Regions from separate parts of the Homo sapiens genome. Here all the other regions are linked to region 1. The links come from fine-mapping of genetic effects on gene expression. A gene starts in region 1. Each other region holds a variant in brackets. All regions are shown on one strand. Distances are between the middles of the regions.

Region 1 (10,690 bases):
ATCTGAGACTCTTCTTGAGTGGATATAAAAAATAGTTATTATAGTAAACTGAATGATGGCCCCTAAATATATCCTAATTCCTGGAACCTGGAAATGTTACCTTTTGCAGGTGTGATTAAGTTAAAGGTCTTGAGAGAGAGAGAGATTATCCTGGATTATCTAGGTAGGTGCTAAATGAAATCACAAGTGTCCTTATAAGAGAGAGGCAGAGGGAGGTTTGATGCGAACAGAACAGAAAGCAGCATAACCACGGAGACAGAGAGATTGGAGTGATGCAGCCCAAGAATGTCGGCAGCCACCAGGAACTGAAAGAGGGAAAGACGATTTCTTTCTTAGAGCCTCCAGAGGAAGGACAGCGCTGCCGACACCTTGATTTCAGCCTAGTGATAGTGCCTTTGGAATTCTAACCGCCAAACAATGAGACAGCACATGTTAATTGTTTTAGGCCACGAAGTTTGTGGTAATTTTTACAGTGGCCTTGAGAAACTAACATAGTTATTAATTTGAATATATGCAAATGTTAAAAGGAGACAGTTTTCCTTGTAACATTAAAGACGTTGGGAAAGGTGAAAACAACAAAGTTATTTCCATTTAGAATAATAAAATATTGAAGGGTAGTTTAAAAGGATCAGGAAGTTTTTATTTTAAAGGACTACTGTATGTTTCGGGAAAATGCTACATTTCCAACCCAATTCCCTCTCTAACATATCAGTTGTCTTAAAGCAAAATTATCTGGTACCAGAGGAAAGCAAATAGGAATGCCATTCTCCTGTGGACATCTCTCTCCACGTTGTTCTCCAGCCCTCCTCAGTGAACAGCTCCACCCATAATCCCACTTCCTGTTTAGTGTCCTACCACCTCCCCTGAGAGTCCTCTTGTTTTGCTGGAAGTAATCTATTATTTTACAAAGTCAAAGAACATATTTGCATAATTTCACTTATGGGAAAGTTTCTAGTGCAGTAAGTTGCTGCACTTACTGAGCTATATGGGCGAATCATGTCCATAACACCTTGGTGTCTTCCTGGACAATATGAGGTACAACTCATCAGCAACTGCCTGCTTAATCTCACTTATCTTTACCTGTCTCTAGATTAGCAGGCAGAAAGACAAGCCATCTCCACTCTAGGTAATTCTAAAATAAACTGTGCTGAAGGTGGAAACTTACACTTTAAAAATCACAGAACTGTCTTATCTAGAATCTAAGAGGCAAATCATTCATTTAGCCAGAAAAAATGTGCAAGTGGAAAAAAGATTTCCCTTTAATATATGCTATAAACAGTTTGTGAGAAGTTTTTTCTTAAATAACTCAATATCTCTGCTTTATAAATAACAAAAAGTCTGAAAATGAAAATCTTAAAATGCTAGGCAAATAAAGATTTAAGAGGTAATTATCCTCCATTTGATTGTACAAGTAGGAAGCTGGTCATCCTTGACACTGCCCTCCTTCACATTCAATCCAATTTTGACTTTTCTTAAGTTTTTTTGTTGTTATTCTCTTTTTGTTTATCTGTTTTTGAGACAGAGTCTTGCCCTCTCGCCCAAGCTGGGGTGCAGTGATGTAATCACAGCTCACGGCTGCCTCCACCTGCTGGGCTCAGGTGATCCTCCCACCTCAACCTCCCAAATAGCTGGGATACAGGCACGCACCACCACACCCAGCTAATTTTTGTATTTTTTGTGGAGACAGCGTTTCACCATGTTGCCCAGGCTGATCTCAAACTCCTGGGCTCAAAAAATCTGTCTCCTCCAGCCTCCCAAAGTGCTGGAATTACAGGTGTGGCTGGCCTTTTTTGTATCTCTCTCTTTTTTTTTTTTTTTTTGAGACAAGGTCTCACTCTTGTCCAGACTAGAGTGCAATGCTGGGATTTTGGCTCACTGTAGCCACAAACTTCTGACCTCAAGCAATCCTCCCACTCCAGCCTTCCAAGTAGCTAGGCCTACAGGCACATGCCACCACACTCAGCTAATTCTGTTTATTTTTTGTAGAGATGAGGTCTCTCTATGTTGTCCAGGCTGGTCTCGAACTCCTGGGCTCTAAGTGATCCTCCTACCTTGGCCTCCCGAAGTGCTGGGATTACAAGTGTAAGCCACTGCACCTGGCCTCTTAAGTATTTATTAAATCTGTTCACTTTTCTCATATCCATTTGCCTTTTTACTAGTCCTCTTTACACCTAAAGTTTCCATCCAGTCATGAGGGGAAAGGAAGAGCACCACAGGACAGCTGGAGATTCAGGTGGGGACTGAAGTTTTACCTTTCCTCCAAAAGTCATAGGCTTTGAGTGAGAATGGGTCCCTCACAGCATCCACTTTGCTACTTTTTACCTATCTGGCTGTAAACAAGGAACTTATTAAAAAGTCATGGCAAAAATTGCAATTACTTTTGCACCAACCTAATACCTTCCATGCTTGTTTCCTCTCTGTAGAATGGGAATGAGAATATGAACTACCTCATGGGACTGCTGCGCACAGGAAATGAGTCCATCAATACATGCAAAGCACGAAGAACAGAGACAGGGACACAATAAACAATCTGCTCTTCTGATTATTGCATACTAGGGTTATAGTTTTTCAGGCTCTCGCTGCACTATGAGGCCCTTTCTTAGCATCAGCATGGCAGTGATTTTACATGTTATTTTTCAAATAGCTATCAAATTAATATTTGTCTCTTCCTCTACTGTAAATTTTATGAAGCAGATACCAAGTCTGTCTTTGCTCTTCTTAGCACAGTGCTTGGCAAAGGAAAGCACTGAAATATTTGTTAAGTAAATCTTGGAAGTAAAGCAAAGCAATAAAGCAAACCAGTGACACCAGTGGTTACCAGTCTGTAGTTTCGGATGTCTTCAGAAGTTGTATGAATGTTTCCTATCTGCTATAGTTCTTCTCCATCCTCACTAATATAAGCTTTCAAATATACCCATGTTCAGGTTCCAAAGATTCCAGTTTGACTGGGATGGGGTTGGCCAAGGCCAGTAATGAAGACTCTCTAAATAATTCTAATATGCAAGTCAGGTTGGAAAGCTCCGGTGCTGCTCCCACCAGCTTCAGTTCTGGCGTGAAGGCCTCCAACCTGACCTCTGCTTTTGAATTTGACCAACTGCCCTCACCCTTGGTTGAATTATCATTTCCTATCTACATAATAGAGGAAAAAATATGGGAAGCGGCAGCTTTACGGGCAGGACTTAGGAGGATGGAACAAACGAGTAAGGTTCGTGCTGTTCAGACAATTGTAATCCTGGCAGCAAACCTGTTGGGCGACTCCAGGCCCACGCAATCGCCAACCCACTCTCATTCAGGGCGTTCTGCCCCTAGAGGGCGAGCGCATCAGGTCATGAACCTTTTTTTTTTTCTTTTTAATGAGATTTTATCTATACTAAGAGCCAACACAGAGTTTCCTACTGTGTAAAAGAATGGTGGCTTTGATTGCCTTAAAGGCTGAACTCCGCAAGCCATCCCTTCTGGGCGTTGCTCCCCAAGGTAGATCACTGAGTCCGTTTCCTTCCCACTTGTCTCTCGCTCCACATCCGCCCACCTCTGCCCCTTTCCACGGTCCGTTTACCCCCATTCTTGAACGATTCCATCGGAATTCCCCAACCCTGTTCCAAGTGTGACCCCAAGATATGAGGCCGCCCTTCCTGAAGCCACCGCAGGCTCCTCCAGCAGGCAGCCCCGGGAGCAGGGAGCTGGGCGGCCGGGGGCCCCGCGCGCCACGGGAGGCAGAGGTCGCTCCCCGATCGCGGAAACCGGGACTCACGTGTGGATCTGCTGGAGGTCAGGGGGCCGGTAACGTTCACCTGGCCTCGGAAGGCGGGTCCCCGAGCGGGAAGCGTCTCGCGCAGCCGGGCTGCGGAGCCACCCCCTCGGCGGGCGATCCTCTCACTCCCTAACTTGGGAGCCACAAGCCGCGAGTCCACGGCGCTGGGCGAAAAGAGTCACATTCCCTCCCCACTCCCTCAAGGGAAAGGGAGCGAAACACGCTTTCCGGACCCGGCACAACAGGTCCTTCGGGCAGCCGCGAGGTTGGGAAGGCCAGGGGCGACTGGCTGCGGAAGAGGGTAGAGCATTCCACGGGCGCATTTCCTGAGGAGGGGCCTCTCCACTTACGGATCCCCTGTCACTTTATTGATCCCCAGACCCACAGCAAATCCTGAGTTTGGGCAGCAGGCATTATACCAAAGGCGCGGGTGGGAGTGGAGTTCTGGATGTGCAACACGGCACCAATCTGTTCTGTCCGAGAGCGAAGTTAGGTGGTGCAGGAAAAGAGCCTTTATGCGCGCCCCAGGACCTGACTCTCGGGGCGATCGGCGACCACTCACCTTGTGCCTGCGCCTCCATGGTGGCTGACTTCGAGCTGAGGGCGGCGGGGACACCCTGGTGCTTCCCAGAGCAGATGGCAGCTGCGCCCAGGCTCAGAACGCAGCTGGCCCCGCCGCTCGCTCCCACTCCTGGCACGCGTGTCGCGAGCGCTGCGCGGAGGGGGTTGGGGACGCAGGCAGCCGCCACTAGCCGCTTCTGGTTACCTCCGCCCCTTCCAGTCCACCTGGCCCAAACCAAGCTGGAACAAGCTCGCCGCTGGGCGCCACCTGCCGGCGCTCTGTACAGCCGGCGGAAGGCACCCACTCCCGGCGCTATAAGGGCATAACGCAGAGATATTGCAGGTTAGGTTCCAGACCCCCGCAATAAAGCGAGTATTGCAACAAAACGAGTCACACGAATTTTTCAGTTTCCTAATGCATATAAAAGTTACGTTTGCACTATGCTGTAGTCTGTTAAGTATGCAATAGCACGATGTCTAGAAAGAGCAATGTACCTACCTTAACTTAAAAAGATATTTTATTTCTAAAAAATGCTAAAGATCATCTTCACCTAATGGGAATCTTTTTGGTGGTGGAAGGCATTGCTTGGATGTTGATGGCTGCTGATTGATCCTGGTAGTGATTGCTGAAGGCTGCAATAGCTGTGTCAATTTCTTAAAATGGGACAACAATGAAGTTTGCTGCATCAATTGACTCTTCCTTTTATGAAAGATTTTTCTGTAGCATGCAATGCTGGTTGATAGCATTTTATCTACATTATAACTTTTTTCAAAATTGGAGTCAATCATCTCAAACCCTGCCATTGCTTTATCAACTAAGTTTATATAATTATAAATCTTTTGCTGTCATTTCAACAATGCTGTGAACAACTTCACCAGGAGTAGATTCCATTTCAAGTAACCATTTTCTTTGCTTGTCCATAAGAAGCAACTCCTCAACCATTCAAGTCTTATGAGATTGAGCAATTTACTCACATATTCAGGCTCCACTTCTAATTCTAGTTCTCTTGCTATTTCTACCATATCTGCAGTTACTTCCTGCTTTGAAGTCCTGAACTCCCAAAGTCATTCAGGAGGGTTGGAATCAACTTTTTCCAAACTCCTGTTAATGTTGACGTTTTGACTTCCTCCCACGAATTATAAATGTTCTTAATGGCATCTAGAATGGTGAATCTTTTCCAGAAGGTTTTCAATTTACTTTGCCCACATCCAACAGAAGAATCACTATTAATGGCAGCTATCTATTTATTTCTTAAATAATAAGGCTTGAAAGTCAAAATTACTCCTTTATCCATGGGCTACAAGATGAATGTTGTTTTGCCAGGCATGAAAACAACATTAATCTCTTCGTACATCTCCATCAACTGTTGAGTGACAAAGTATATTATTAACCAATATTAAGCAATAATATTTAGAAAGAAACATTTTTTGAGCAGTAAGTCTTAATAGTGGGCTTAAAAATATTCAATAAACCATGCTGTAAACAGATGTACTGTCATTCAAGTTTTGTTGTTCCATTTATAGAGCACAGGTGGAATATATTTAGCATAATTCTTAAGGGCTTTAAAATTTTCAGAATGGTAAATGAGCTTTGGCTTCAATGTAAAGTCACCAGCTACTTTTGCCCCTAACAAGAGAGTCAGTTTGTCCTTTGAAGCTTTGAAACCAGGTATTGACTTCTTTGTAGCTGTAAAAGTCCTTGGTAGCATCTTCTTCCAATATAAGGCTGTTTCATCCGTATTGAAAATGTGTTGTTTCGTGTAGCTACCTTCATCAATGATCTTAGCCAGATCTTCTGGAGAACTTGCTGCAGCTTTGACATCAGCCCTTGCTGCTTCACCTTACATTCATGTTATGGAGATGACTTCTTTCCTTAAGCCTCATGAGCCAGTCTCTGCTAGCTTCCAACTTTTCTTCTACAGATTCCTCACCTCTCTCAGGCTTTATAGAATTGAAGAGAGTGAGGGCTTTGCCCTGGATTAGGCTGTGGTTAAGAGAATGTTGTGACTGCTTTGATCGGGTTTGATCCAGACCACTCAAACTTTCCCCATATCAGCAAGAAAACTGTTTCACTTCCTTATCGTTTGTGTATTCACTGGAGTAGCACTTCTACTCTCCTTCAAGAAGTTTTCTTTTGCATTCACAGCTTGAATAACTCGTACAAGAGACCTAGCTTTTGGCCTATCTCAGCTTTCAACATGCCTTCCTCACTAAATTTAATCATGTCTAGCTTTCGATTTAAGGTGAGAGACATGTGACTCTTCCTTTCATGTGAATATTTGGAGGCGATTGTAGGGTTATTAATGAGCGTAACTACAATATTGTTGTGTCTCAGAGAATGGAGAGGCCTAAGAAGAGGGAGAGAGATGGGGAAATGGCTGGCTGGTGGAGCAGTCAGAACACACACAAGATTTATTGATTCAATTCACTGTCTTATATGGGCATGGATCAGGGTTCCCCAAAATAATTACAATGGTAACATCAAAGATCACTCATCCCAGATCACCATAACAGATATAATATAATGAAAAAGCTTGAAATATTGTGAGAATTACCAAAATGTGACACAGAGACATCAAGTGAGCACATGGCATTGGAAAAATGGCACCAATAGATTTGCTCAACATGGGGATGCCACAAACCTCCAATTTGTTAAAAACGCGATAGCTCACTCCTGTAATCCCAGCACTTTGAGAGGCCAAGGTGGGCGGATCACGAGGTCAGGAGATCAAGACTTTCCTGACTAACATGCTGAAACCCCATCTTTACTAAAAATACAAAAAATTGGCCAGGCGTGGTGGCACGCGCCTGCAGTCCCAGCTACTCGGGAGGCTGAGGCAGGAGAATCGCTTGAACCTGGGAGGCAGAGGTTGCAGTGAGCCGAGATTAGCCTGGGCAACAGAGCAAGACTCCATCAAAAAAAAAAAAATGCAGTGTCTGTGAAGCACAGTTAAGAGAAGCGCAATAAGACGGGTTGTGCCTGTAAAGGTCTGATACTATGCCCTGGACAGAGGAAGAGAACATGGTTTTACAATACTGAGCCATCACTCTTAGTGGAGATACGAAGGTAGGTTTCCACAAGCCGTGGTTCTAACATTTTTGTCAACTGATCAATACACAATTTTGTTTCTTTATATATTTTAGTTTAAAGACACCTTATTTCATGTATATCATGTATATTGTTGTTTCATTAACATTGAGCTAACAGCCAACAGCACTAAAACTCATACCAGAATCAAGTTTATTAAGCTTATTTAACATATATATTTTCTCTCTAAGGCACATCACAACCTTCTTGCACCTAGGAACACTAGACAGTACTTCAATGCTATCCTGGGGGGCCCAGAAAAATCACCAAAAAAAAAAGGTTTGTTTATAGACTGGAGAGATGAAACAAGAAGGCAGAGCTGCCTTGCTTTTCCTCAGCAGGAAACTTGAATCTTCTGGGGTCTCTATCCATGAGTCCCTGTAGGTTGTACTTGCAGGTTGATGAGACAGTCATGTTTTCAGACAGGACTAGAAATTCACAGCCCTGTTCCAAGGCTTTCCTGGTAATGAGATTAGAAAGCATGACAAGGAGTAAGAAATATCAGCTCCCATCTCTACTCCTCTGGCTTTGGATGTTACAGATCTCCCCTTTTTCTCAACATCTACACGATCTTCATCTGTAAAATACAATGTGGTACTTATTTACATTTGGTCTTGAATAGTTTGCCACTTGGGTTTTTGTTTCCTCTTCCTTTCTTAAAATAGATGGTAAAGTCTGTCAGGTTTGAGTGTGGATATTATGTTAAACCTCCCATAATTCCTGACAAAAAGTCTTATAAAAATTTCATAGCTCAAAAAGATTTATTGAATAAACAATTAACTAACCAGTAGGTTATATTTTATCCATGCCCAAGTTTGCACAGTATAGACTAATAAACATAAATGGAGTCTTACATTTTTTTCTTGAAAGAAGGAATACTACTCATGGTTTCCTGGCACATGTACGAGCACCTCAGTGTGGTTTTTGTTATGTTGAAGATCTCACTGATTTGTAATCATTGCCATTAAAATTACTATGTAGAACACTAAGCATAAGGCTTTTAAATGACTTTTGGTAATAGTGACCAGGGATGCATGAAGTGAAGAATCAGTGATTAAATCACTTTTAAAGTCTATTCCGTTGTTCTGGTCTTCTATACCCTGGAAATTAAACACCAGGTTAGGGTTGACTCCCTGCTGCTAAAACGAGCTAAAAATAGTTAATGACTTCCCAGCTTGAGTCATCTAACCTTCATCTACACTCTGACTCATTTTTCTGATTTATAACATTTTAAGTTGCTACCCTTTTAATTTTTCAATCATTATTTATAATAATAAAATATTGGTATTCATTCCAAAATAGTTATTGAACATCTATATGCCAGGGACTGTGCTAGATGCTAAGGGTATGGGTTAAGGACATGCTCCTTCCTTACCAGGGAGTTCATGATCTGGTGAGAAGGAGGGATAAACAGGTTTTTTATAAAGCAGCGCCTCGTGGTAAGCGCTGTGCATAAAGGGTAAGCCCAGTGCGTCTGTGAGCACTGAGGGAAGCCTCCTAACTCAGGCTGGTGAGAAGTACAGAAATGTTTCTTTCAAAATGCTTGCCTCAGCTGTGTCTTAAGAGTAAAGGAATTAGTCAGGCAAGTTTGTGTTATCCCCCTAATAATGGTTTAGCCAAAGAAGACTATTATTGAAGTTAACATATTATAAAAATGAAGATTTTTCTATTTTGTCTTTTCTTTGTCTTTTCCTTGTCATTTAAGATGGTGAACTTTCTTAACTTCTTTAAAGCTTATTAAAACAGCCACCTTCACCCTCTCCTTTGTCTCTATGGCCACTCCAGATGCAAAACGCTGTGCAAGTGTTTGATTGAATCAATGAAATTCTGTTTAAAAATACCTTACTTAATGTATTTTGTTGCTTTAACATTAACATTGGTGTTGACATTAACATTAACATGAGACAGTCATGTTTTCAGACAAGACTAGAAACTCACAGTCCTGTCCCAAGGCTTGCCTGGTCATGCGATTAGAAAGCATGACAAGGAGTAAGAAATATCAACTCAGGTCTCTACCGATAGCACTATAACTCATATAAGAACGAAGTTTGTTTAGAAAGTTGATCATTCTATAGGGGTGAAATGCAGTAGAAATCTCAACTGTCCAAAGGAAATGTGTATTCAACAGTTTTTACTTACACCAGTTCCCGGTCACTTGTAATGTATGGGTCTGAAGGCATCGTGGGAGGTGGACAGGGCACAGAAATGAGAGGAAGGAGTAGAAAGGACAGGTGAAGTGTGCTGCTCTGGCCTATGAACTTTACAAATACATTGAAAGAGAACATGAGCTTTGGGGCTCCATTAGATTCCCACTCTGAAAACTACCAGCTGTATCACCTAAAGGAATTGTCTCAGTCTCTCTGTGCCTGGCTTTCTGCATTTGTGTCACGATGCTATATGAGGTATTAATGGGCATGTTCTTTCCCTCCTATCCCACTGGGCACCTGTGCTTTTAAAGCAGTGGTTCCCAGTCATCTTCTACATCAGCACCACATGAGTGGCTTTTAAACATTTCTGATACCTGGGTTCTACCCCACAAGTATTCTGATTTGTCTTTTTAAATCTCTCTCGGTGATACTGATGTGCTTCCAAGATTGACAATGACCATTTCAGAAACTGTCCACAACAAAGATGAAAGGTTCTATAGTCTCAGCTTTTAAATTAAAACGTTGTCACCCAAGTAAACAGAAAATAATGAAAAAGAAATATGAGCAGGCAGCACAAGAATTTTTACCCCTAATTCCAGGGGAGTTGGAGAGGAAAAAAACATTGGGGAGGGCAGAGAAGTATGAAAGATTTAGACATGGCTCTGTCTACAGATTTCACCCTTCTTCTCCTTACTCCCATGAGAGCAAAGAGAACCTGGCCTCGACAATTGCATTGAGAACTCTGATGGCCAGATAGTTTTGAGAAACCTTAGGGATAGAACAAGTGCTCTTTGTCACTTTGAATTTTTCACCCTCTCAAGTGGTGTAGGAAGCCAGAGAGGAGTTTCCTTGAAGCCCCAGGTAGGGGGTGGAAGTTAGTGAGGAGAGAGAACTAGCTAGTAAGCCAATATCCCCAGGAGGCTGGAGAAAGGCAGCTTCCATTTCCTGAAGCCACATGAAGAAAAGGGTGCAACAGAATCTTTCATGAGGGTAGGAGGGGCTGCACAAAGGGAGAGGCATTCAGAACTCAGCCTAGCTGGAGGACTTACTGACCTCACCCCACATCATACTACTAAGCTGGGCAAAAGGAATGAGGAGAGATAGTTTGATTGCTCAGAAAGGGGACCAGCACCACCTTTTTTC
Region 2 (10,690 bases), 98 kb before region 1:
CCACTTGGCATTTTTTAAAGTTATTTATTTCAGCAAATGTGAGACAATTCAGAAATAGTGCAAGGAAAAAAATGTTCATATATTTTTTCTTTTCCATGCCTTAAAAAAATAATCATTTTGACAACTTACATGAAGTGGTGTTTTGGAAAGTTAATGCTTTCATTATTTTAAGATGAAACATACCCATTACCTACCTAATGCCCAATCAAAATGGAGGTTATTAGCATGCGTTATTTTTCCTCTCAAATAGATATACCTACTTGTTCTCTTACCAAATAGAACCTTTGCAGCCTAATGGCTTTTTTTTTCTTTTTTTTGATAGTCTCGTTCTGTCACCCAGGCTGGAATACAGTGAACTGATCTTGACTCACTGCAACCTCTGCCTCCCAGGTTCAAGCGATTCTCCTGCCTCAGCCTCCTGAGTAGCTGGGACTGCAGGTGCCCACCACCACATCCAGCTATTTTTTTTGAATTTTTAGTAGAGATGGGGTTTCACCATGTTGGCCAGGCTGGTCTCGAATTCTGACCTCAGGTGGTCCACCTGCCTCGGCCTCCAAAAGTGCTGGGATTACAGGCGTGAGCCACCGTGCCTGGCCCCTAATGGCATTTTATTTGTGACTCATTCATTGTATTAAATAATCTATACATAATTTTGTTGCTTTAAGCACTAAAAACTTCATTTGGTGCTTTCTGGTTTTCTGTATTGGATTTGGCCCCATGATATTATAATTTAATGACATCACCACCATTAAAAATACCACCAGCTCCTACTAAAGAAACAGGAACTGAACTAAGTGTATTTTAAATCTTGTATCCATGTCAGCTTTCAGCAGCAACAACTGCCATCATTTTCAGATCAAATAATTCAACTAAATGTTGAATTAATAAGGCACTTGTTATTCTCTCTTGAGTGCAAAAAAAAAAAAGTAAAATAAGAGGAATGGCCTAGAAAAACTTTATAAAGGAGAACAGCTATAGAATATAGGTTTCATTATGTGGTGCAGAATGAAGTATCACTTTTATACTACTAAAAGGCAATGAACATAGATGTTTATGAGTGAATTTGGGGATTGTCTCCTGAGTCCTTGGTGCTCCACATGGTCAGAAATGTACCTGCATTCAGGCTGTACAGATTAACAATGGTGAATTCAGAGGGCCCTGACATGGCATCACATTTTGTGTACGACTCAAACACGAGTCAAATTCCTATGAGTGATCCTCCGTAATGCTGTTTCATGATGAAATGTTAGTAAAATTATACTTGCATGACTCAAAAAGTATATAGTTATTGGCACTTCATTTCCATTGCAGGTTTTATTTGGCCAAGCCTGCACACATGACTGCCTGTCATCCATCAGTTACACAGGCCCACAGTGAGGAAATGGTTCATGGGTATATGTTAGACAAGCAAAATAATTTTTTTTTAAGTTAGTTTCAGGCAAGCTCATGCAGACTACATTTGACCCATTAGCCACTACTAGATGAATTCCTGGTTCACAGGGGAAAACCATGTTAATTTTTACTAGCCTTCTTCTGACACCCAGATTTAAAATTTGACAAGTAAAGGGGAACAGAGCCTTAGGTTCCACTACCCAACTGGGGCATTCTTATTCTAGGGAGAGCAAGCCATTCAAAGATGAATTAAGCAATCTTGAATCTGTACTCTCTGTTTACCACCAAATACAGAGAACTAAATACTGAGGGTGAATTTCCAAATCAACCAATTAACCACATAACCCCAGTGTAGAAGAGCCTTCCTTCATAAAATATAATAGAACAGACATTTATCTAATTAAATTATACTAGAATACATGCTGGAGAACAGGGAGAAGCTCTTTAATCAGATTTAATCAGATGTACAACTTTAATAAGATTTAATCAGATGTACAAACTTTTTTAGCACTGCAAATGACCCTAGGAAGAATTTCTCTTCATGACAGTTAAAAAACAGAGGAAAAGATTATATATATGAAGAATTTGGCTTCGGCGGTCTCAAACTATTGAAAGTAACTAAACTCCTTCTATAATGCCTTCAAACAACAACATCAATATAAAGCAGGTAGAAGAGGCATAGCTCTGACTGAAGTGGGGGAAGATCCCAAAGGCTTCATCTCTAGGCAGCCTTAGGGCTCGGTGGGTGGAGGGGCATCTTTGACAAGCAGCTAATCTGGTTCTAGCCTCTTATTTTAAATATGATGAAGCTGATACCATTGAGGTGATTTTCCCAAGAGTGCAAAGTTAATCCTTGGCAGAGCTGGGCTAGAGCCTGCATTTTCTGATTTTCAATTTAACACTCATTCCTGTCTTGCTATTAGTTTAATTTTATCTGATTGCATCACTATGCCATGCAAACTTGAAGTTAAGAATGTCTTTCTCACCAGTTTTTATCTGGTCAGTAATTATACTGACATTTTATTATTTAACAAACATCTCACCTTAATATCCACCTTAAAAATCCTAATGATATCCTCTCTAGAACTTTAGCCTTGCATTTAAACTTGCCCCCAGGCTAGCATTTAATTCTGCGGAAATAAGAAACCCAAGTTTACCTTTGCAAGATTGCTTGGCATGTTCAGACACTGTGCTAAATGCTTTATGTAGGTTCCTTTGTTTATGCCTCACAAACACCATATGAAGTAGGTCTTATTTCTTGCAATATATGGATAAAAGAATTGAGGTTAAGTCACTTGTCTTGGATCACACAGGAAAGACTAGATTTAAGCCAGGATGTCTGGTCAAAAGCCCAAGCTACGCAATTCTTCCACAGAATTGTCAGCCTTTTCTTTTGAAGACCATCAGCAATTTCCTTTCACATAAAGCAGAGGAACCCCATAAGTAAATATAAATAAAATAACACCTTAAACACATTTCATATTAATATTACATAAAATATTTTACACACATTACCTCATAGCAGGCATACTTATGGAATGGCGAATGGAGTAACTTCAGAGCAAAAGCAGATTAAAGGGGAAAAAAGAAAAAAGAAGAGAGCACACATAAGTACATGAAAAACTCCCTATTCGTAGTTCTAAAACAGCAATTCCAAATATCTGAAATATTCCCTGCCCATCTAACCAAGATGACATTTGTTTTTGTTGGGTATAATGGGTATAGTCAGCTTTCAAGGGTATAAATGAAAAGTAGATGGTGGATCCGTGGTTGCATATTATTTTACTTTCTGCAGCCTCCTTTTGCCAGGAAATCTGAGAATGTCTGGTTTCTCCCAGGTGAGCCCAGTAGCCCATGGGCATCTTCTCCAGGCCCAACTTAGGTCTCTACTCCCTTCTGCTCAGGAAAACAGTAAGGAGCAAAAGGCAGTATCCAGGAAATAGAGCCAGGCAGGTAGAAGCTAATCATTCCATGGTAGAGAAACTGGCCAGAGGAAAGCAAGAAGTTAACATAAGACTTTCAAGGAAGCACATGCCAGGCAAACACAGTTCTCATAGGCCATAGGGACTTCTGCATCCATTCTGGTTTGATTGTCAAGATGATTGATTTGTACTAGATGACTGTCAAGAACATCTGGTACAAACACAAACATTCCTGAGAATTTTAAGAGATTTAAACTTCTCATCCCATTAATCCTAGTAGCTGATTCATCTTCCCTCTGGTTGGTTGCCTGTTACTTTCTATTGAGTTCCACTCAGAAATCAGGCTGGGCATGGGGAGGAGCACAATGGGTCCATTTTCCTGGCCTAGTGCTTGCTCCCACCTCACACTTTTCAACAGCGTCCCTGCTTTCTCTTCTCTCAAGGAGCTAATAGTTCAGGGACCAAATCTGTCACCCTTCCCTCATAATATCCACTGAGGGCATTAGTATGGGTAGCACTTTGCTAGAACACAGAAAGAAAAGGACAAACAAATTCATGGGATACTTACGGTCTTACCCTAGACACTTGATTTAGAAACTATTAGGCAGATATTTCCTCAGAAATTACACTTCAAAAGCATCACTAAAAGAGCCTCATCTGCATTACCAATTGGTGTATCTCTGTAAATATAGACCGCTTTCTTAGGAAAAAATTAAAAAAATAAAAGTATATAATAAGATTCCGGCTAAAAGAAGTTTTAATTCGGGGGCTTGGGATTAAAAATCACAAACTTCTTAACATACGTACGTGCTTTTCCGGTACCTTTCTTCCCTTCAACTTCAGAAGGCACAGAAAGTTGAAGGTGAAACATCAACACAAATTATGGGTACAAGAAATTCAGAGAAACATGACAATCTAGAGAAAATCTGTTTTTGTTTCTCAACTTTACTTTCTAGAAGTTTCAGAAAACATATATAACTTTCAATCTCCACTTTGTTTTTTTTTCTTCTTCTTTTCAATTCTAAGAAGCTCTGTCAACACCGGAAGAAATGGTGCAGAGAAAGAGACTCCTGAGAGAGAGCTCAGCAAGTGAAATGGTGTAAATGATTCAGAAATGAGATAGAGATGTACTTCAATAAGTTCAAATGTATTAAGTGCCCTATAAACTATCTTCCTGGTCACGGGAACTGTCTGGAAAACAGAGTGTAGTTTTGTTGGTTCAGGCACAGTGTGAAAGAAACAGGGAGCCCTGGAAAGCAAAGGGGCAGCAAGGGAGTGGGGAAAGCCCCACACGCAGCCCTGTGGCGCTTACCCGATGGAGTGAGACCTGCAGCCCGGAAGCACAGGAGAGAAGAGCAGGAGCAGAGTTAGCAAACAGGAGGCAGAGAAACACTGCACTGCCCTTGGTGGTCCCCTTTCAAGGGCCCCAGAGCACAGACAGGGTAGCTTCATTTACCACTCTTGATTACACTGACTTTTTAATGTCTCTGACAAATCATTTTACCAACTCAAGTTTTGCTTCTGTTATTCCTATAAGTATATAACAATGATTGGACTGTAATAAAATGACATGCCTTCTCCAAACATTTTGTCCCCAGTGGATCAGTTTGAACAAATTAACTGAGAAGTTCCCAGAAGATGCCAATGTTATTAGAAAAATGATTCCAACCGCTTGGATTTCTTCTGAGTACTTTCCTAAGTGTGACCTCATTTTAACTTCACAGGAAATATTTTGGTTAAGTGGGTATTAACAATGTTATTTTATGGATGGAGAAAGAGAGTGGGCAATTCCATGACAATCAGGTTAAAATGAGAATCTTACTTAGCTCAGAAAAATATAACTTATTTTTACAAAACATACAAATTAAATCTTAACATAAAGCTTTTTTTTCAGCTATTAAAAGGCCCAAATTCTAGGTTTTACAAAATCTGTAAATATTAATTTGGAGTTATTTTAAAGAAAAACTGAGAGGTACTGTTGTT[C/GTTC]TTCCAAGCTATCTGAATTTTGCTGGTAATGTTTTTGAATACATTCAGAAATTTGTTACCAGAATGCACAAAAATGTTATAGTGTAACTAATAAAAATGTAGACTAATATGACACTTTTAACCAAAAAGAAGTTTAAAATAAAAGGTCTGTGACCAAATTTTAACATATTCCCCATATTTACAAATTGGCACATTAGTTTTTGAACAAACAATCAAAGCTTACTATTTTTTCCCATTTAAGGTCTTTTATTAAGTTTAAACACTTTCAAAATGACTTTTATTTATATTACTTGTTTGGGCATAATTTAAAAGTAAAAATCTTTGTAAAACTTGTTGCTTTCACAAAGAGTTATTCTCATTTATATACAAATGTTAGATATAGTTTGAGAGAAATATACACATAAAATATTATATAAATAAAGCTCTGAAATTTTCAAACTCTTCAAAATATTTCAGGATTGTATTTGATTATCTAGCAACACAGATTGTATTTTCCAATATTTTTAGCCACAGTTTATAATGAAAATGTTGTACCCTCTACATGGGATAATAACAAATGGAAAGTTTGGAAGTCCTGGAAAATAGGCCATCCACTATACTAGACAAAGCCACATTGAAACGGGAGGAAAGGCAGTCAATACAACCTTGACATTGTACCCAATTAGTGTTTGAATATGAATGCCAACATATTGCATATGTGAAACACAGTCTTCATTCTTCACTATTGGGAAAAACAATGAGCAGGGCCTTTATGAAATACAGTGGGCTCCTGTTAATGTACTCTCCCTAATTTCTACCATGTGGGGCCATCTTGTAACTGAGCTGGTCACTTAAAGATAAAAAACTGCAATTTTTTGAGTGCATAATACATGTCAGACTTTCTTCTGCTACTTTTATAACAGTCCAGTGACATTGTTATTCTTATCTCCATTTTATTAGTGAAAACCCCAGATACAGGTGAGCTAAGCTATGTCTGTCTTCCTCATAAACTGACCCTCTGAAGCCAAATTATCTGGAAGCTTGTTATAAATGCAGATTCCTAGACTCCACCTCAGACTTACTGAGCACAACCTCTGAGAGGTGCAACCTAAGAATATGTATTCTAAACAAGCTTCAGAGGTGTTTGTAAGATCTCCTAAAGATGCAGAAGCACTATTCTAGTTAGCAGTGTCATGCTGGAGTTCCCAGGGTTCAAGTGAAAGATTTCAACACAGTATGAAGAGAATCAATTTTATAAACATGGGAAAATATGTTTTCTTGGGTATAACAGGTTATAGAGGGTTTCCTATTTTAAAGGATTATTTAATTAGTTTAGATAAATGTTATAACGCCGTTAAAATTATTACAAATTTTATTTGTAATAAAATTAGGGGTAATTAATAATCCAGAAGGTTTACCTGTTTATCACACCTGCTTCTGAAGAATTTCAATTACTTTTTATTATTGTGGCATTAGTAAAAATGAAGATAAAACAATGTACTCAGATTCATGCACATGTCCTTGTGAATGCCTAGTTGTTAAAATAGTGAATGAATATTGTGGACAGTCCAGCAATTTTTGAAGTAAATAAAATTTAATAATATAATTTATAAAGATGTATCTATAAGTGTAAAGTTAGGAAGATATTTGCCTCTCAGTGTCAAAGCTTTTCCTTCTTTTTTTTTTTTTTTTTTTGAGACAGAGTCTCACTCTATTGCCTAGGCTGGAGTGCAGTGGCGTGATCTGGGCTCACTGCAACCTCTGCCTCCTGGGTTCAAGTGATTCTCCTGCCTCAGCCTCCTCAGCAGCTGGGACTACAGGCACACACAACCATGCCTGGCTAATTTTTGTGTATATATATATATTTTTTAATGGAGACAGGGTCTCACCATGTTGGTCAGGCTGGTCTCTAACTCCTGACCTCAAGGGATCCACCTGCCTCAGTCTCCCAAAATGACGGGATTACAGGCATGAGCCACTGTGCCCAGCCCAAAGCTTTTTCTTTTTAATAAAAAAGTAACAGTTTAAGAATCCAGTAAAATAAATACGCAGAGATTTTTTTTTTTTAAAGAAGAAATGTAAAATGTGCTCGAAAAGTTTTTAAAGAATAGAGGGAAAAATGAAACTGATTTCTAAAGAAAAATCCTCCAAGGCATATCAGCCAAATGCAAAATAAAACTATGACTGGTATTTAAATAAGCAAAAACTAAGAGTAATACCTCTATATAATATGGTATATAATATATTGTATATAATATTGTATATAATATGAAAAACTATGGGCAATACTACATTTTTTTTTTCCTGGTGCCTCCAGTGAGAACTTTTGGTTCTCAAGTCAAAATCAACCTTGATGGTCACCCTTATTTTATGTAACAGTGAAATATTGAAAATAATGAAAATGTGCAAGGTTACTTATCTAAAAGCATTGCTATAGCTACGCACTGGGAGATAAATTCATTAAAAATGAAGGTGCAATAAATATTTAACATACTCACAAAATAGTTAGAAAATGAAGAAAGAAAACTACCAGAAGTGTATATGTGTGGTACCTTTATGGAATAAAAGGATAAATATGTACCTATTTAACACAGAAAAAATATACTAGATGGATGTATACAAATATGCAATCTAGAATAGTTTATGGGAGTGCATTCCACTAAATGCATGTTTTAATTTATCATTTATATTACAGCTAGTAAGAATTTGCACATGCTGCATTCTTTTCAAATCTGCCTCACTACCCTGTATCTTCTATTTTTACCAGGTCGGGTCCTAGTAGAAACAGCAACTCTGGGACCAGGCCACCTAAGCCTGACCTTCAGGCAGAAAATGTCCCAGTGTGAAAATTTATCTTAGTCATCAATCATATCAGCCATATAACATTTTTATCCATTAAAATAAAAAAATACATATGTTGAGATGAGCAGCTAATAGCTAGTGCTCCCTTCAATCGGAAAGCCAAGGGCTTAGCGCCGTTCCCATGGTATTTTCCCACAGTACCTCATGTCTCCGAACTTCTTGCTGATGGCCGTTCCAACGTTGCTGAAAGCTGCAGTTGCCTTTTGCCCTGCGTGACTCAGGGTTTCATGTGTTTTCTTGTAGCTAGAAATAAAACAGAACAACATGGTTTTTATATCATGATCTCCCATAAACAATTCATCTTCCTTCTCACTCCTTACTTTGAAAATGTCCTTTCCTCAACAGATTTAGGAAGAAGATCCACAAAACCACTGTTTCCATTCATTGTCTGGGGATGATGGGTTGGCTGCTGTTCATCAGAAGGAAAGTCAGACCATTAAATCTGAATTTAGGAAGTATATACAGATACAAATACAAATACAGATCTGAATGTGCAGCTCTTTCATGACAAATAATGGAACTGCTCAGTGAGCAGAATGTTGTTCTTGAAGTGTATTAGTTCTAAAACAGACACTTGTCAATGACAGCTCTAGGCATCAAGGATGACACAGAAATTAGAGAATGCAGGTTTAGGTTTTGAAGGTACATCTAAGCTTACACTGTTAATTTGGGTAAAATAAGCCAGAAAAAGGCAAAACACAGCTAGTTATTTAGCTTACTTTTCTAGTATTTATAGCTGGGAATAATAAAAGCACATTATCTGAAGATAATATAGTGACTTTTTTTCAAAACAGTTTTAGGAATATATACTGTGAATATTTGTTGATAAGCCTATGTCATACTAGACTTGACTACTTGAGGGCAAGGAAGCCATTCATCTTTGTGTCCCTGGTCTCTGACAAAGGGATAAAGAAGAAACTCAATAAATAGTAGATGAACGAGTGGGTGATATCAAAAGGGACAACCTTTTGTGACTCTGAACTGGGAGTAGTGGCACTAGGAAAAGAAAGAGGTATGATGGATTACAGGGATAGAATGGACAGATTCAACAGGAGATGGTAAGTGATAAATAAGAGCAAGACCAAAGGTTGTCCTGAGGCTGTGAGCATCATGACAGGAAGGACAGTGATGCTACCTATAGGGATGAGAAATTTCTGAGTTGGTTATGAAAGTGGGAAATAAAAGGTACATAACTTGAGGAATAATAGTAAATCAACAAAATTTTTATACACATTAAAAAAAACCCTCAAATCTTAAAATGCATATGCTGTCTTCTTCTGATTTATGCTGCTCCCAGGTAAGTTCTCCCAAAACCCTGTTATACTTGCATGCATATGGTATCTGTAAGAAAACATTATACCCTATGAAATCAGCTATGTAGGAACTGCCCTTTTTCCTCTACCCCTTCCATCTCCCACAAGTCATCCAGTCCTAAGTATGATCTCAGGCTCTAGTGAATATTTTCAAATATGTGCCTTGGTCTTCCCTAGGACAGAAATAACTTTATTAATGTGGTATTCTTTTTGTGAGCAGAATGGAATCTGTCTATAATATTGTTAGCATTATATGTTATTTATTAACACAATGTTTTTTTAGGAAGTATAAAAACATACATTAACTAGATCATAAAACCAAATGTTCATTTACTGAACAGACATTTCCTATCAAAAATGAAAAGACCAAGCAGAATAAGGGTCAAGGAAGAATCTGGTGACTAGGGGGTAATTTGTGTCTCTGGAGAGGACTGTGTGAGGAGAACAAGGAATGTGGATGCCAGATGGCACTGGGTCAAACAGCAAATGAGACAAGATGAAAGAAATGAACAGCTTTTAGGAAGTTTGCTTAATTTCTTTTTTTCTCTGAAGGTCCAAAAAATGTCAGCTCATTCAAATTAAATTTTATTTTTACATTTTGCTACATGATTTTAGCTTTTAATTTTGGAAAAACATTTTTTGACTACATGAAACCATGGAATTTCAGGCAGTTTATACATGAAATCAAATATTATTATCAAGGAGACAGGCAGAAGATGGCAGATAGGAGACAGGGCTAATGTGCATCTTGCACTTGCTCAGACAGAATAGTGTGTGGAGACTCACATCATGAACTTTTGTTCCAAGAACCACCATAGGAACTTACCAGGAACACCGAAAGAATTCACAGATCCTTTGAAAGGAGTGGCACACCACTGCAAATTCTGAGAGACGGGTGAAAAACTGAGTTCCTAGAGTGCGAGAGGAGAGAAAACCTGCCTCTGAACCCACTGCCTCTGAACCACCTGCCTCTGAATTCCACTAGGGAATCTGAAAATCCAGATCACAGGAGAGGGATTTAACCTAAATTAGAGCTGGAATGGATTCAGGGATCTGGGTGAAATACAATAGTAGCAGCAATGGGAAAAGCCTTATAGGCACTCCCAGTTTCTCTAGCTTGAGCCCAGGGAAGGTATATAACTGTATCTCACAGAGCGCCTCCAGGAAGGCAGCCAGTGGAATTAGGGAGGGGTCATGGGGTGAAAGAAGCTTCCAACTGAATTTTATAATAATTGCCAC
Region 3 (10,690 bases), 48 kb before region 1:
TTGTCTAAAGCTTTGGTTTCATTAATAATGTGGCTAAAAAAAGAAATTATGTCTGCAATGCTCAGCCTGAGAATGTACTAATCAGTTGACTATAGAAAGAGCTTAGAAGATGCTTCTGAAGTTGTAGCCGACCACATTAAACATCTATTCCTTTTTTGTTGTTGTTAAATATGCTGCTTAGGTGACAATCCAAATAGTTAGATGCTGATTAAAATGGACTCTAGTCTCAAAAGAAACATTTGTGGCTGTCCAAAACCTAACTTGGGCTAAAAATGGAAGTGACGTGCTATTACATATAGAGGTCAACAAATACATGGAACTCTTTCCTTCCCTTTCTCATTCTTCCATATGTACAAGGTGGCCATCTTCTGACTGCCAGGAAAAATATACCATTGATACAATAATCTCAGGTTAACCATGTATTATTAAGTCACCAAAATTCAATGTAATACTAAAGATAGCAGAAAGTATATGGTACCCAACAGTTAACCAAGTACCACATGGTCCTAAAGGGTGGAGAATCTTCCAGGAGCTCAAACCAATTAAAGGTTTCAGGAATATACATAAGCCTAAATTATTATCTCTGTGGCCAAGACCTAAGCAAGGACTCCTATTCACCTCCAGAGACAAGAATCTCAGAGAGCCTGAACTGGCTGCTTTTACCCAAGGCCTCCCTGGTCCCATCCCTAGCTTGTGCCTATACAGTATGCTCTTGAAGGCACTGGAAGCTGTGGAAATTTGGAGTGATGGGAAGGACCATCTAAGGTGACACTGCTCAGAAGCGTGGGAGTGGCTGGCTTGGGACATCATTTCACTGGGCTAACTACAGAAAATGTCCCTGCATTAAGACCCAGCTTTCATTACCACATAAGATCAGCCGGCCTTTCAGGTCGGGGTCACCAAGTTTGCTGCATATTTGAGACATATCATATTCCAAGGCTTCACCTGTGTTTTCTTAGGTCCAGAAATTGTATTCCATCAGTTTACACAATGGTGATTAGCCTCTTGGGAGATAATTTCTACTAACAAATCTGCTGGGAGACTGGTTTGACTAGTAGACCAAATACCTTAAGGTAAATTCTGTGCTCTCTTTCCTTCCTCAGAACAAAATCTACTTGAAAAACCAAATGAACAGCAAAAGATTATTTGCTAAACATTGTGGAGAATAAAGAGTTAGGTGACTTAATATTGAAGCACTTACTATGCTGTATTTTAATTCCACAATTCATTGTCTTTTTCTTCCTCTAGATTGTTAGATGCCCCATTCTTCGTATCACTGCTTCCTTGTTCACACTAGGTGTTCAATAAATATTTGGGGAATAATTTAATTAGCTATCATGCCCTTACATTTGTACTATTCAAATGCCTATAAATTAAATCTGATAGGCCTGGCGCAGTGGCTCACGCCTGTAATTCCAGCACTTTGGGAGGCCGAGGTGGGCGGATCACGAGGTCAGGAGATCGAGACCATCCTGGCTAACACGGTGAAACCCCGTCTCTATTAAAAATACAAAAAGTTACCCGGGCGTGACGGCGGGCGCCTGTAGTCCCAGCTACTAGGGAGGCTGAGGCAGGAGAATGGCGTGAACCCAGGAGGCGGAGCTTGCAGTGAGCCGAGATCGCCCCACTGCACTCCAGCCTGGGCGACAGAGTGAGACTCCGTCGAAAAAAAAATAAAAATAAAAAATCTGATAACTAGCCAGGGAAGCACATTTCTTCTTAAAGTGTTGAATATAAAATAACCAAGACTTGCAACCAATGCAATGACCATTAACAAGGGTAGCAAATAACATGTGCTAGAGAAGTAACAATCAGCACGCATCAGTATACCAGCTCTACTAGAACCATCACTCCATTTTTGTTAATGCATCTTGTTCCTTCAAGGACTACATTAAGCCAGGGTCTAGCTTTCATTCTATCAATGTTCTGCTTGAGTTTATACCTTTATATGCTCAGGTAAAACAAATGCTAAAGCCACACTTTCTCAGGAAAACGATAAGTAAGTACAGTGAAAAAGATCAAGATGAATCAGGCTCTTCATTACATTGCAGGTAACACTAGAATGTTAGTTCCACTTGGTAATTAAAGACACCTACAGCAGAATCTTATCCGCCATCCTGACAAGTTGAAAACTGATGTATATCTGGGACTATTTGCAGGAGAAAGGTGTCTCCTCATGTCATTAGGACATAGTTGTGTTATATGTTCTAAGCTCCACCTTAATTTATGTTGTTTAGAATATATCAGTAAAAGACAGCTCTACTTGACTGTGAATATTATTGAAATTGTTTATAAACTGTTTTAGAAGTAGGTCAAGGGAACAAGTATAGAAGACATCAGGTTTTCTACAATGAAAGCCAGAAATACAGAAACTTAGGTTCCTTACAGATGGGGTGGTTCCTCCAGGGTCTGTGTAGAACTTCACTCCAGGGGAGCCAACTGGATTCTCAACCAAAGAGTGAGCTGCTCAGCCCTAAGCTTTTATTCCTGACCTGAGGTCATGTGGCCTTATGCACACACCAAGGGTTTCTGCTGTGTCATTAGCATTTCAGTGACCAAACTCAAAACCATGCAGACAAACAACAGCTCTACTTTCAATGAGAAGATGTAAAATATGTGTCACAAATATCCTCAGCTCCTCCAATTTCCTACATTTCAAATATAAGATTAAAGCATTTGGGATACTCTTCCTATTTCAAACCATTATTTGTACTCTTGAAAGGGACTGTTTAATACACACAAAATAGATGCATTGTGGGTAACACTGCAAGCAAGAAAAAAACACCCCCGACAAAAAGTCACAAGAACACAGCAGCCACAAATTTGGGAAGGAAAAACTAAACAAATAGTTATGCAAAAAAACAAACAAAAATATAGTTAATGTTCCTGATGGATAGGCTCCAGGAACTTCCTTCTGTGAACAAACTCCCATAGTGTATGAGGAAAAATAAAAACTATTGCAGAAATGGGAATAGAAAAACTAAAAATAACCAGACCATCTAAACCTTTAAATCATCCTTCTCTCTGTATCCCACCCTCATTTCCCAACACTCTCCCTGACCACACAAACACATATTCAAATTCACATTTCATGGAACTGGGAAAAGGAAGCCAAACCTGACAAGATAAACCTCCACTGAGAAGCCAAGGTGGGTGGATCACCTGAGGTCAGGAGTTTGAAACCAGCCTGGCCAACATGGTGAAACCCCATCTCTACTAAAAGTACAAAAATTAGCCAGGTGTGGTGGTGGGTGCCTGTAATCCCAGCTACTCAGGAAGCTGAGGCAGGAGAATTGCTTGAACCGGGGAGGCAGAGTTTGCAGTGAGCTGAGATTGGGCCACTGCACTCCAGCCTGGGTGACAAGAGCAAGGCTCCGTCTCAAAAAAAAAAAAAAAAGATAAACCTCCAAATGTAACACTCAGCCTCCTTACATTTTTTGCCCTAAGCAAAAAGGAAAACAGTCTCACTTATTATATTATAAGAAAACTCCAGGGTAATAAATTATTCTGAATTCAAGCTCATTAATAAAAAGTCACTCATTTCAATTAAAATGAGAAGTAATCTCTTCTTCTTCTCCTTCTCCTCCTCATCCTCCTTCTTCTCACACCATCAAAAATAGACCAGAGAACTGATTTTCCACTCATTTCTTTGGTTAGCTGAGTAGCTGCGAGGCACCCAAGCTAGAGTTGAGGGCTGTGGGACCAGTTTCTTATCTCCTTCAACTCCTGAGGGAGTGAGGTGAACACGACCTGTGCATGCCTTGAGCTTCACTGGACAGGATACATTCCATCTTAGGTCATTCCTTAAAGGCTCACTGATCTTATAAAGTGCTGAGTCATCTTTCAGAGCTAGTTCAGGAAAAAATTTTCTTGACAATGAAAGATATTCACTATGAACACAAAGCAGGACAAAATGTAGCTTTTTTTTTCAAGGCATGTTTAAAGAAAGGGATAGATAGTAAGAAAGACTTCCTCAGACAGGCCTGAGATTTTTACAGTTCTCTAATCTTTGCACAACTTCAATGCAAAGGCGAGGGTTAGACAGCGATGCCATGATGCAACCACAAACACATCACGCCTGGACCCATGCCTACTGGGACTGCAGCCAGATTCAGGGGCCTGAACATTCAAAAAGCATTGGTCAGACGTATAGACAGTCTTCCCTTTACTTTAAGCAAATCGGTTCAGTAACATTCACATTTCTTCAATGTCTCTTATCAAATCTTTAGCATTCCAAATAGCTACTACTGACAATGCCCAGGAAAAAAATCCTTTTTCCTTCTGAAATCTGAGTAGCAAAATAAATGCTAAAGGAGATGGAAATATGTGTTTCTGAGTCGTGACATGTTGAGCAAGAATAAAATATGCAAGAATTAGAAAAGTTTCACTCAAGTCACAGACAAGAAAATGCAATGGTGAGATGAAATATGAAAAGACACTTATCCTCACTAGCAATAGGGAAAGCACAAATTAGAATCACAGAGATACTGTTTTTCATCTAAGATATTTGCAAAGAAGCCAAAATGGGATAAGAGCCTGTGTTGGCAAGATTGTGAAAAAATGGATCCTTTAACCACACATTGTTGGCTTTTGCACTGTGACACCTGATTGGGAGAGCCTTTGACACTGCCATCCCACTTTTGAGAATCAATCTTACAGAAAAAAAGGTGCAAACCTAAGGAGAGAGTATAAATCATTGTTGGTAGTGGTAGAAAACTACAAAAACCTAAACGTCCATCAGTAGGGCACCAGTATTCAAGTATAATATACCCACACTGTATACTATTTTTCAGTTATTAAAATTTGTGAAAATAAATATAATGCAAAAGTTGTTGCGACCCCCAAAGCACTTTAAGTCTTGAGAAAGATGTGACTGTGATCTGAGTCACATATGGTTATAATTTCTGTTTCTCAGATTATACATTAACTCACTTTCTTATTTTTCTCGTTCTCTACAATGGCTAGAGATAATTAAATGTCCAGGACAAAAATCTCCTGCCTTCTTAATGACCCTTGCTATAGATTGACTTCCTCTTTG[G/T]TACCTTGCTTTGCTAAGACCACATGACAGAAAACCCATGACTACTATGCCCTCTGTAATGAATGTTAAATGTAACTTTTCCAAAAAGAAACGCTGCCTATAAACCAATCAAATTGCTGTAACAATGTGCCAACCCTGTCTGAAAAATGAAATATGCTAAAAACTTCCCTGTCCCTGACTACATAAATGAAACCTTAATTTCCCTACTTTAGAACGCTGACTCCATTCCTTTGGAGTTGGCATGTTTGAGTTGGCCACCCTCACAATATGCACTTAAATAACCTCTCCTTAAATTGGATTCTGACCCTTATGACTACCTTAGGTTGACAAAATAATGAATTGGATTGACATGTATTGACTAGGAGGAATTTTCATTGTATATTGTTGAATGCAAAAATCAAGTTACTGCATCATATTTGCATCTGCACCATTTGGGGGAGGAATAAAACACCATTTTTATGTGAACATGAACATCCATGCATTTGTATGAGCATTGAGAAAGTTGAGAAAGGATATGTACCAAATTGTTAATGTTGGCTGCTGCAAAAGGGTGAGGTTGGACAGGGAGAAGATGATTCACTCTGTTTTATATTCCTCTGTATTACTTGACTGTTTACAATAAGCACGTATATAACTGTTAATTTTTTTAAAATTTGTATTTACTTGCTCTGCAGATAAATGACTACTGAGGGACATTTAAAAATTAGGACATGCTAAATTATTCAAAAAACCATGTATATCTTTTGTCTCTAGTTCCTGAAAACATTTCCAATATTTCAAATAGATTCTTTACAAAGAAAATACCTACGAAAATCTGTTTGTGGCTAGTGCAATTATAGACAATCTTGAACACATTTTTTTAACAACTGACTGAATCTAGAGCTATTTTTTTAAATAGATCAAACGATCTTAAGAATTCATTAATGCAATTCATGGCATGCTGAACATAAAAGCAGGAAGAGGCCTATGTTCTCTTTCAAAATCCTTCCCAGATGGCAAACAAAGCTCAAAAATGAAAGTCTGCAAATAAGATGACTGAAAGAGGGGTTTAATAATCAGTGGCTTTGAAAATGCATGTTCCCTTTTTAAAAGGTGGCTTTTCAGAAGTTTAGCACAGTAAAGCACCTGTGAAAGGTAGCAATGACCCTGTGTCCCTGCTTACCCAGTCTAGGCAATGAGGTGATGAGCCACTAAGGAGGCTTCCCCTAATGTAATGGAACAACATGGAAATACAATGAAAGTCAAGCTTTAACAGGTGCTCTATGGCTCCAAAGCATCTTTATGTATTTTCTGCATTTTTATGACCTAAGTAATTTTTAATTTTTCACTATCTTATTTCCTATAATTTGTGCTATAAGTGCTCAATTCTAGCACATTTAATTTGTATATTGCAGGCAAGCTAAACTTAATATCTCCTTTACTTTTATTTTGATTTTTTTTGAGATGGGGTTTTGCTTTTGTTGCCCAGGCTGGAGTGCAATGGTGCAATCTTGGCTCACTGCAACCTCCGCCTCCCAGGTTCAAGTGATTCTCCAGCCTCAGCCTCCCAAGTAGCTGGGATTACAGGCATGTAGCACCACGCCTGGCTAATTTTGTATTTTTAGTAGAGATGAGGTTTTACCATGTTGGTCAGGCTGGTCTTGAACTCCTGACCTCAGGTGATTCTGCCCGCCGCAGCCTCCCAAAGTGTTGGGATTACAGGCGTGAGCCACTGCGCCTGGCCTCTTTTACTTTCATTTGACTGAAAATAATTATCTCTGTACACAGAATTTAACATGTGACTTTTTCTTGATCCTACATGATATGCAAATATCAATAATTATTTAGTAAATCATACAAGTCTAGCAAAACATTTTTTATACTACATTACTGGTAAAAATTAAAATCAACAAAATCCAGCTTAGCTCCTTCAATCTATTGTCCAATAAACAAATCGAGTCATTAGAATTATTTAAGTCAAAACCACAAAAACCTTTTACTTTCTCTTGAGAATCAAGGAAGACTTTTCTCTCACAAGAATCAGATTTTGTTTCATAGCAAGGTTTAGATTTGATAGGCTTTTTGTCCTTTAAGTGCTGGTAGAGGTCAATAATGTTAATATGTTAACATGTTCTTATTCCTAAGGATGAAGGAAATCAGCTAAACTCATCTCATCTTGCTATGACCATTTCGCCGGATTTCTCAGCCTCAGCACTATGGAATTTCAGGTAGGGGAACTCATTGTTGTGATTGTAGGGAACTGTGTGTTCACTGCAGGATGCTCAGCAGTATATCTGGCCTCTGCCAACTAGATACGAGTAGTACTCATCCCGTAAGTTGTGGCAATCAGCACTGTCTCGAGACATTGCCCGTTTCCAAAATTGAGCCATTGACAACACATTGAGGAAGCTCTGCTCAACAGACACAGAGACAGCTGCATGCTCATAATTTTGGCTGACACTTGTGTTCACAATGTGTTAGGCACTGTGCCAAAGATTTTATGCACATTATTTTATACACATCCCTAATTTATAAAGAGGAAAATTGACGTTCATAGACAGAAAGTGGTTGAGCTGGGTTTCCCTGCTTTTTCTATACTCAGGTGACCAATAACTTCCATGTGTCCTTGGCATTCTCAGCTTTGGAAGCTGGTCATGTGTTTGTGGTCACGTGTTTGTAAATAGATCTCTCTTACCCCATGCATGCAAGTATGTATGCAGGGATAGAACTGGGTATAACTCTACCCAAATGAGTAAAGATGGACAATGAAGGAAAGGACTTTGAAATTCTCCCATCTCTAGTAAGTAGCTGAAAATCACTTATCACTATAGGTTTCCAACACTATACAAGATGCCTGTGAAGACAATAGACACAGAAGACTCAAATTGCCTGAAAGGGTTTAGAGCACTGTAAGAACCTCCCAGTATCTGATGGCCTCTTGGGTTGTTCCTGCTGTAATCAGGAAACTAACTCCAGACCTCTGTCCCTGAAGGTAGACAGAGCTTCGGCTCCTTCTCTCAGAGGGCAAAGCAGAGTTCAAGATCACACTCAGATCAGCCAGAGTGCCCTGGTCTTGGCTTGAAGCCCAGGGTATAATCCTAGTTCCTGGTAGGGCTTTGACTGTGTTGACCTTCCCAGATCTTGGCTGCTTCTTATTTAACTGGAGCCAAGGACTCACTCAGAAGTTCCAGGGCTAACCGATCCCTTGGCCTGCCTCACACTGACCTTGAGCTGCAGCATTTACCCAGCCTTTCCTGAGTGAACTCCAGCAGTGAGCTGCTATTAATCACACCCTGTTGTAACATCCCCTGCCTCCCTCTTCCATTTCCTTTTCTCTGGAGACACTAGCGCCTGTGCTGTTTCAGGTAATGGACACCCAGATGCCTCTTTTAGACTCTGAAAATTGGATGGGGCAACCCCTCACCTCTGACGCTTAGTGGGCTGTTATTTTATAAATAACATGTTTGTATAACTGATTAGTACTTTATATTATATTCCACCTTGGGTGAAAAATAGACTTTGCTTAAAAAAAAATCCTTCTGACTGTTCTTCCTCTTAGAGTTCTAAACTCTGCACTTTTCAAAAGAGTCTGTTCTTTTGGGCCTAGCAAGCAGAAAGAGGAGAGTGTCTCTTGATCTGGGGGCAAACATTTCCCTAAAATTCTCCTGGTAGAAAAAGAACTCAAAATAGAAGTGAAAATGAGTTGCCGAAAAATAAGAAAAGTTATATTTCTTGCCCTTCTGAGTTTGTGAACTCACTGGATACCTGCTTGATATTGAACTAGATATGTGGTGGATATGTGCAGATTAGAACTATTAAATTAGATTATAGAGAGAACAGACCTACCAAGATGAAAACGTAAAATCATTCAAGGGATTGGAAGGTCAACATGATAACACATAAAACAGATTTTCATCTGGAAAAGGGACATCTCTAGAGACTGTTCATACAAGGAGGCTTATTCAAAGAGAAAGGACAGCCAGCTCTTTTCTCAGCAAGCAAGAAGGCTGGGCTAAAATTTCAGCAAGCATGATTATGAGTCTGTTTTAGGGGATACTTTCAGGTTATAAATTAAATGTAGCTCTCCGTGGTATAGAAAAGCTTGGGAAAAATCTTTTCTGACAACCCCAGTGGGAGATTCAGGACATGATTATTCTGATGAAAGGCACAGATCCGGCCAGATGTCTCTGAGTAGTTTTTCTTTTATTTTCTTTTTCTTCCTGCCTAATGATCTAGGAATATGACTACACTTTTGATACTATGGGAGAGGAATTCCAATGCTGGATCTGCAACTAATTGGCTCTGAGCAAGATTCTTATTCACGCTCACCTCCATACCTCATGTATAAATAAGGGTGACAGCATGTCATACTTATAAGTCCGTAGACACCATGGTGATGAGTGAGGTGGAGAGTCTAAGAATAGTCTGATATCAAATACAGGGATGTGAGGAAAAAAGAAAGTTCTATTTTCAAGGAAATTTGCTACACAGTTTGAACAGAATCTGATAAACACCAAAGTATATATTACAGATAAAATAAGCATTTCTTTGCAAGTTATTAAATGTCATGTGCTTTATATAAGCTAACAGAAAACATAATTCAATAACTTTTTAATGTAGTCCATGTCTTAAAAATAATTTGGCGATCATTGGTCTTGCGTTGAGACAGGAGCCACGACAATAATTATTTAGACTTTTTTGCATTTGCAGGGCACATGCCAAAAGTTGTTTATACATTACAACTATAGTTAAGCTTTTACATTAATGAAGCAGTAATTAAAACTTTGGAACTGCCCCAGGTGTTTCTGTGGCTAATGTAAGCTCATGCTTGATCTTATTTTCTCTCTGTGGCAGTCACAAGGCTTAAGGATATGGGATGAGAGTTTAAAAGAAAATATAAACAATTTTAAAAACAGCTACAACTTTGGAAGCTACAGAAAGCTTATCTTTCCTTGTTTTCCTGAGTCTTTGATGATTAATACATTTAGAGCCAAATTTAAGGGCATCACTCAAGTCCTACTGAATTAGAATCTTTGAGGTTAACCTTGCACATCTGTGTTTTGTTAATCCCCACTGGTGACACTGATGGGCAGCCAATGTCAAAACCCACTGATTTTAAATAATATAGTATGATGTAAGGGGCATTACTGTGAGCTCAGCACTATTCTAGGTCCTGGAGATACAATGATTATCAGAGCAGACAGGGCCTCTGCTCTCCTGAAGCTTAAGAGATGCATATGATGAGCAAGTGGGCAACAACTGGCCTGGCTGTGATAGCGCGAACAGGGCACTGTGATGGAGTGACTGGAGACAGGCTTTGTCACCATGCAAAACCAACAATGGTCTGAGAAGTTGCAGAAAGCCTCTCTAAGATGGGTCAGTGCACTTGGCCTTAAGAAGGAGTTGCTATGTGACATTCCAGAATAAAAGAGATTTCCAGGGAGAGGTAACAGCTAGGTCAGATGCCCTAAGGGTAAAACCTGCTTGGTACCTCAAAGGATCAAAAAGATGCCTGTTGACTGGACCAAGACAACAATGCAATTTGTTCAGTATCATCAGAGAATTTCACGTAAGTGCCTTTTCCATAGATCTAAAATTTACTTAATCTTATACCACTCAAAAATTTACTCATTTTATATAAAACCTTTCTCTCATGGATGGGTGACACAAAAT

Evidence for each region.
Region 2: its variant is fine-mapped to the expression of TPD52L1 in tibial artery (GTEx, PIP above 0.99).
Region 3: its variant is fine-mapped to the expression of TPD52L1 in atrial appendage (GTEx, PIP 0.96).

What each region holds. Positions count from the first base shown.
Region 1 is chr6:125,147,594-125,158,283 of GRCh38, reverse strand. It overlaps TPD52L1 (TPD52 like 1), which reads right to left and starts at 4,511. Exons shown (of 7, transcript NM_003287.4): 1 at 4,314-4,511. The coding sequence starts at 4,332. RefSeq lists an enhancer at 3,128-3,715.
Region 2 is chr6:125,245,973-125,256,662 of GRCh38, reverse strand. TPD52L1 (TPD52 like 1) reads right to left here. Exons shown (of 7, transcript NM_003287.4): 4 at 8,280-8,381; 5 at 2,908-2,946. Among named protein-coding and RNA genes, the nearest start is that of HDDC2, 51 kb to the left of the region's middle. The variant C/GTTC (reference allele first, on the strand shown) is at 5,298.
Region 3 is chr6:125,195,474-125,206,163 of GRCh38, reverse strand. The region is part of intron 1 of TPD52L1 (TPD52 like 1); the gene reads right to left. It overlaps LOC100126584 (a long non-coding RNA gene), which reads left to right and starts at 8,347. Exons shown (of 4, transcript NR_149043.1): 1 at 8,347-8,382. The variant G/T (reference allele first, on the strand shown) is at 5,039.